Linked DNA regions of Homo sapiens. The protein of the gene in region 1 interacts with the protein of each later gene in a biochemical or structural test. Each region holds a gene or a part of one and is shown in the gene's direction. Other genes may lie near its edges.

Region 1 (3,064 bases):
TGTCCTGTGAGTCTCGTTAAAGGCCCCTGAGGTTGCAGAGGCCCCATCAGCTGCTCCTGAGCCACACCGAAGTCTGTACCAGGGGCTGAGGTGCCCTCTCCCCAACGAGGGGAGCGTTGGGGCAGGGAAAGGGGAAGCTAGAAGCAGCTAGAGAGCGGTGCCTGTGCTGGATCCCTGGGCCCCTGGAGGGTTCCTCACCGGGCTGCCGGGTTATGTTTGCGGTGTTTGCACAGCTGAAGACGCAGCTGGAGTGGACAGAAGCCATCCTGGAGGATGAGCAGACACAGCGGCAGAAGCTCACGGCCGAGTTTGAGGAGGTCAGGCCCTGCCTGGTGGCTCTCAGCCCCCATCAGCCCCTGGGCCCTGAGTCTCCAGGGAATGAGTGGGTCAGCCCTGCCCCGCTCGGCTGTGCCCAGCAGCACCTGGGCTGGGCCTGGGCCTTCTGGGCAGCAGTGGGTGGGGCCCGGGCAGGTGGAGCACAGGCTGGAGGCACCTTGGGAGCCCTGTGGGTGGTCTGCATCCCTGAGGAGCCTTGAGGGCCTGGGGCTGGGTCAGAACTTGTGGGTCTGGCCCACTCATTCCAGCTACAGGATGGAGCTGTTGCTCCATCAGGCTGGGGGGGCCCCCTGGTCCCCAGGCGTGCTCGGTAGGGTCTTGACAGCACAGCCGTTTATAAGACGTCTCACCCAGACCTCACTTCCCTCTCCGGCAAGGCTCAGACCTCGGCATGTCGGTTACAAGAAGAATTGGAGAAGCTCCGCACAGCCGGCCCCCTAGAGTCTTCAGAAACAGAGGAGGCCTCACAGCTGAAGGCAGGCAGGGGCTGGGGCGGGGGTCACACCTGGAGGGTCTGCTCTGGGGCTGGCGCCACTCTTGGCCTCGGAAAGGGGCCAGGAAGGGGAGAGCCGACCCCACCGGGACCTGCCCTTGGCACTGGTTCCCCTTGTCACTACCCGGGGCTGGGGTGGGGACTCCTAGCCCTGCAGTGTCACATGGTCACATGGCAGCCATTAGTCCTGGTGGCTGTCGAAATGTGAAGCATGTAGAACGTGAAGTGCGTTCCTCAGCCACACGTCCAGCGCTCAGTAGTCAGGTGTGTCTCCTGTGCTGCCTTGGACAGTGCGGAGTAAACTGCTCCTGCCCCAGGAAGTTCTGGTGGTGCTGAGAGCACAGGACCCAGCCCTCACGGTCAGCATGGGCGGTTTCCTCCCTGTCGTCACCACCTATCTCCGGGTGACCAGGAGTTGCCTTCCTTGTGTCCCCAGAGGGCTCCAGCCCCTGGCGTCAGGGTCCTGTGGGCATAGCTGGGGTGGCCCTCCTGCCGGTGCAAGGGCTGATGCCCGTCAACCTTCTGACCATCAGGAGAGACTAGAAAAAGAGAAGAAGTTAACAAGTGACCTGGGGCGCGCCGCCACGAGACTGCAGGAGCTTCTGAAGACGACCCAGGAGCAGCTGGCAAGGGAGAAGGACACGGTGAAGAAGCTGCAGGAACAGCTGGAAAAGGCAGTGCGTGCCTGGCGCCAAAGCAGGGCGGGAGGAGTCGAGCTGCCGGGAGCCCCGGGGAGGCAGGACCGGGAGAGGCAGAGCTGGGCGGAGTCGTCAAGCTGCTGGGAGCGCTGGGCTGGGAGCCCCAGGGGAGGCAGAGCTGGGCGGAGGTAGTGGGGACAGAGACTTCCTAACGAGGGCTTCAGCCCACCCGGCCCACCACCCACCCTTCTGGGGTTCCCTTGCTGGGAAGCGAGTGTCTGATCCCCCTGCTGGCCCAGGTCCTCACTTTGCACCTGTGTGGGCCCCTTAGCCAGTGCTCCAGCCCCTGCCCTGCAGGATGATGGTTTCCCCTCAGCTCCCACCAAGTCCTCCCTGTCCCCCAGCCCCAGGGGTCTGTGGCTCCTGTTCTCTGAGGGACTGGAGTGGCTTGAGGGGGTCAATCCAGGGAGGGACTAAAGGCCCAGGGTAGAGGGCAGGTGGTTCTGCCATGGCTCGTGGCCCAGCCCCCCTCACGCCACCTGCCTTCGTTCACAGGAGGACGGCAGCAGCTCAAAGGAGGGCACCTCTGTCTGAGTTTCCTCTTTGGAAAAAGAAGTTACTGTTCAACTTACCAAAATGCCTTACACATTCCTTACAAATAAACCAACCAACCTACACAGCGTTATCCAGGCCCAACTTCCGGTAGCTCCGAGAGAAGCCATGAGAGACAAGTCTCTTAGAGCCACAGAAGTAGACCTTCCAGAGCCCCAGTTTGTAAATGAACCTGTGTCACATTTGATAAACACTATCCTGGGCGCAGCCCCGGGCCACCGCCGAGTGACGCCAAAGCCCTGGTTGACTCTGACAGCCCCGTGGGTGTGTGGGAGGCCGGGCGCTCTGGGGTCTGTCTGTCAGTGCAATCGTTTAGTGTTTTTTCAGTGGGGCGGGGCGGGAAGCGGGTGGGACCGGGCAGCCAGTTCTCAAAGGCTGTGGGGCCGACTGGAGGCCACAGCCCCTCACCCCTAGACGTTGCCAACCAGAACTGACGTGTGACCTCCTGGGTGTTGATGCCATTAAAACCAACGTTGGTGCCCGGTGCTGCGGTCTCGTCTGGTCTTCTGCTGGGGCTCCCCCACCCGCTGTTGGGCCCAAGATGAAGAACCAAGGGGTGGGGGCGCACTCGGGAAGAGAGTAAGCGTGGGCCTCAGCTGCTTTGAAGGCAGAGGCTCTGCAGCTCCGCGTAGCGTGGGGTGGGGCTGAGACTCGCTGCTTCCGGGGCCCCCAGCAGTTTTCCTTGTCACCTCCCAGACCTCAGTGCCCTCCGGGCAGGATAAGGGAGCAGGGCCTGCGACACCTGAGAGCCAGATACATTTACTGCTGCCCCGCATCCCGGAGGGGCTGAGGTTTGTGAGCGCGGCTGGTGGCCCGGGCTGTTGCGTGATGGAGGTCCGGGAATGAACAAGGGGTCTCTGTCCTGGCTGGGGCTTAGACACCCACACCCCAGGAGGGTGGGCCAGGGCTGGAGCAGCCCACTGCCTGCCCTCGGGAGGTGGAGTTTCACCTGCAGAAACCAGCTTAGGTTTGCCACGACCCTCAG
Region 2 (4,203 bases), on another chromosome or scaffold:
TCTGTATCCTGGAAATTCCGTGCAGCCTAGGAGAACAGCCCTTGTCCCACAATTGCCCCTCAGTAGCCCTCCGGCCTCTTCTGAAGCTTTAACCAAGTGCTTGAAAAGAACCGAAAGTGAGGAAATATTCCAACTAGAATGGATCCCTTTGTGCCAACAGCCTCCTTTAGAGTTCAGGAACACAGAGGAAATCGAGGAGGGCTGACTTTTCACCTTAGAACTCACAAGGCCCAAATGTGCCAATGTTTAACTGTCTCTCCGAGGTGCTTCTGACACCCGGAAATTCACCATGTATTTGGCATCACCAGGAGCTCCTCAACTCCACTGCTTCCTCCTGCTTCTCTCTTCCCTGGCCTTAACTTCACCACCCAGACCCACTGTCCAGCTTCCCAGTCTCTCTGGGTCCCCACTGAGGCTGCCCTTTTTGGGGAAGGAAGAGTGGCCTTTTTTCTTGGCCCTCAAAACTCCTCTGAAGGGGTCTGGAGCCCGCTGGGAGACCAAGAGCTTCTCTTGAATCTCGGCTGCTGCATGTTTAGTATTCACAGCATGTCTCTAAAAAACGTCCTGAGATCATTCATCAGGCACTGTGCTGTGTGCCTAGCTGCTCTCCTTCCGGGTGTGTGTGTGTGGCCAGGACCCTCCCTCCATCTGCTGGTGAACACACATGCACACACACCTTAACCTTTTTCCCTTTTCACCAAACCAATCGCATTTTCTAAGCAGACCTTTGCCAGCTGGCAGATCGCTCCCTTACTGAGGTGGGCTCCTGGCGTTGGGCCTGGGCTCGAAGCCGCTCACACTCCAGTGCTGGGGAGAGGCGCTGAGAGCAGGAGCCCGAGCCGAAACTCAAGGTGCGTGTGGATGTTTGCGATGGTGACCAGGAGGGGAGCTGCAGGGAGGGCATCCCCAGCAGAAGGCGAGCAAACAAGGGGCGAGAAGCAAGGTCAGGGGCCAGGGAACGGAGTCTCCGAAGCAAGCGTTCCTGCTGCCCCTTCTCCGCAGTTCACTCCCCGCCCCCCTTTCCCGGGTTCACTTTGGAAATTGGCTTGCCCTCTCGGCAGCCAGCAGTTCCCGGCAGAGTCCGGCCGTAACGGTCAGATTCAAGAAGTGAGGCAGCGCCAGGCTGGGTGGCTGGGTTGCTGGGTTGTTCTTGGGAGATTCTTTCCCCAATTGTCAATTTTTTGCTTATTTTTAGTAGTGACCCGAGCCAGGAACTGCGCCTTTAAGCCGCTTTCCCATTCGGGGAAATCGACGCCAGCACTCGAGGGTCGGGAGGCGCCGGAGAGGCCCCTCATTCTGCACTCCCCTCTTTCCTCCCCCTCCCCCTCCCCCCGCCCCTTCTCCCCTCCCCTCCTCGGCCGTCCGGCCGCCTCGCCGCCATCCGTCACCTCGCAGCCTGCCGCACTCCTGGAGCGAGAGAGCGACGAGCGAGCCACGGCGATGGTGCCGCCCGCGGCGCAGCCATGAAGCCCGCCCGAGGAGCCCGCGCGCGCTCCTGCCATCCTGCCCGCAGCCCGCCGCCTGCGCGCCAGCTCCCCGCGTCCCGGGCCAGCTGCTGCCGCCCTGCCAACCTCTGCCCGCCCCGCCGCCCGGCGCCACTGAGCCCCAAGCCCATGCCGGGCTCGGGGGCACGGGTGCCCTAGTCCCGCTGCCGCCGCCGCCGCCGCCGCCGCTGCGCCGCCGCTGCCGCGCCGCTGAGGAGGCGGAGGAGGAGGAGGAGGAGGAGGAAGAGGAGGAGGAAGAGGAGGGGGAGGAAGGTAAGAGGCGCGCTGCCTTCAGGGGGGCGCGCCCGCTGTCTCAGCCCAACCGGGGGTGGGTCGCGGCGGGAGCGTTCCGCCCCGGGCCGGCTGGGGGGCGACTGGCGCTTGGGCGCCCCCGGGAGCCGGGGGCAGGGCGGGGGGCGCCGAACGTCTGGCCGCCCGGAGTTTGGGCGGGCGGGGTAACGGCCCGTTGCGTGCCCACTGCCCCGGCGAGTCTCTGGCTTGGCGGGCTCGTTTGGCCTCCGCGGGTGCGGGGTGAGGAGTCGAGCGCAGGGGAGTGCAGCGCGTTCATTATGGAGCCTTTGTGTGCGCGCCTGGGCTGTGGGCACAGTTGGGAGAGCTGGCGAGACGCGGGGCCTGGCTGCTAGGAGGTGGCCACTTAGCCGGGGTGCCCGGCGAAGCCCGAGCCCAGGGGCTGCCAGAAACAGCTGTCTGAAGCATGTGCGTGGTTCCCGGGGCCATGTTCACAAGCGGACACGGAGGCGCACACACACGCACACACAGCCGCACAACATACCCGGCGCTCAGCCACACAGTCAGCCCCATGCAAAGACCACACACACACACACACACACACACACACACACACACACAGAGAGAGAGAGAGAGAGCGCGAGCTACACTTGCCCCCTCCCACCAAGATGCTAATAAAGCTCAAACACATATACAGATACATGCACCTCCCCCTAGCGCTGCTAAAACATGCACACACAAACACACTCCTCTACTCCCCAGCCTAGTGCTTTGGAGGTTGGAGAGTGTGTGTGTGTATGTGAGTGTGTGTGTGTTTTCTCAGAGTGGTCTTGAGAAACTACATGACAACTGCACATTACTGCAGATCCAGTACCTGCTGCTTCCCCCCAATACACACCCAGCAACCCCCCGTCACACGCAGCTACTGTAGACACCTCCACCAGAGCCCTTAAGAACCCCATTCTGGCAAAAAGCGTGCCCAACTCTGGTAGTCATACCCTCCACGCTCGAGCTGTTGGGTTTCCTGCACACACACACCACAGCCCCATACACACACACTGAAACCACTGCAGGGGCAAATGTTTGACACCTTCCCCCAGAAGCAGGTGGCACCTCCACCCTTGCAGCTGCAACTAAAGAGCCCCAGATGACAGCAAACGCCGAATTCTGCTAGACCTGCCCCTCCCCTTGGCATCTTGGTCCAGGTGCAAAACCCTGGAGTCCACCGGGTGGTCTTAGCATCCTGCAGCTCTTACGGAGGGCGGGGCAGTCTCTGGACTCCTGCCTTCGGAGGAACTGCTATAAGCGCAAGGCTCCCTTGGGGGCGCCCTTCTCGAAGTGGAGGGTGGGGGATTCTATGCTGACTCAGAGCGAAGCACCAAGTGAGTTTTCCCAGCTGGAGACCGGGGTAAATGGCGAACTCCACCTGGGCCTAGAGGACCCGGGATAGTGTGCCAGTTCAGCCACAGAGGCCCTCAGCTTGGAGGCCCTGCCCCTCCCTCGCCTTCCTTGCCCATGAAGCTCACTGCAGGAGAAGCAGGGGGAACCCAGCTGCCAGCTTCTTGGGAGCTAAGAGAGGCTTTTCGGGAAGCCTTTGCTGTTTCCGCTGAGCAAAGAGATCTTGCTCTACCCGGGGAGACCTCAACAAGACTTGGCCGTGCCCAAGCAAACATGCCAGCGTCTACCCAATTTCATGGCTTGTTTTTTTGTTTGTTTGTTTTTGTATTTCATGTGAAAGGACTAATTCAACCTTAGCAGCTTGTCATGAAGGCACCCCTGAGGTTAAATAAGGCATAATGTATTGTGGATGGGGGAAACAAGGTTGAGGGGAGCAAGGACTAGTGGGTTTTACTGTTTTAAGTAGAGATGCGGAGTTAGAATGTAGACCGTGGTAAAATCGTGACGGCGATGGCTTCTACGTCAGAGCCCCTTCCCTGCTCCTGCCCCTCCCGTCGGCTGCTCAGGGCTCCTCTGGGTCCTCTCCCCCGCCCCCTTAGATTATTTAGGCGGGGCTTTGCTCACTGCTCGGGCAAATTTGATGACAGAATCCCTGCCAGGCCAAGGTGTTAATAGCTGATAGAGGTTTACTGCTTACACCTCACAGGTAACATTTGCATTTTTAAAGGACACAGAGGAGTGACTCTGTTGGTGGGGCTTTCAGGCACCTGTGGCAGGACTCAGGCAGGAGCAGTTTGTGGACAACCTCATCTGTCTACTCTACTGTCTGTGCCTAGGCCAGAGTTATGGGTGATGTGTGTGTGGGAGTGAGGGTGTCAGAAGGTGAGATGTAATTGTGGAGGGTTTTGAGGCCCACAAAGAGAAGGTTTCAATTGACTTGAGAGGCAATTGGGAGCCACTGCCAGATTCTGAGAAAGGAGGGAATAAGATATAAGCAGGAAAGAAACACTCATTGCTGCATGTGGAGAGAATATCCCCTATCTCTCGCTGGCACCCAACACCACAACCGCCT

The links. The genes of interacting proteins can lie anywhere in the genome.
Region 2: the proteins of RRBP1 (region 1) and FRMPD3 interact in a test that uses a peptide from one of them, tested with the Homo sapiens proteins (one large-scale study listed by IntAct).

Annotation. Positions count from the first base shown.
Region 1 is NC_000020.11:17,613,179-17,616,242, reverse strand, and holds the end of RRBP1 (ribosome-binding protein 1), read left to right. Parts: intron 1-233; coding exon 234-317; intron 318-713; coding exon 714-812; intron 813-1,362; coding exon 1,363-1,506; intron 1,507-2,022; coding exon 2,023-2,061; 3' UTR 2,062-2,564; downstream 2,565-3,064. UniProt on the Homo sapiens protein: Acts as a ribosome receptor and mediates interaction between the ribosome and the endoplasmic reticulum membrane.
Region 2 is NC_000023.11:107,448,249-107,452,451, forward strand, and holds the start of FRMPD3 (FERM and PDZ domain-containing protein 3), read left to right. Parts: upstream 1-1,403; 5' UTR 1,404-1,757; intron 1,758-4,203.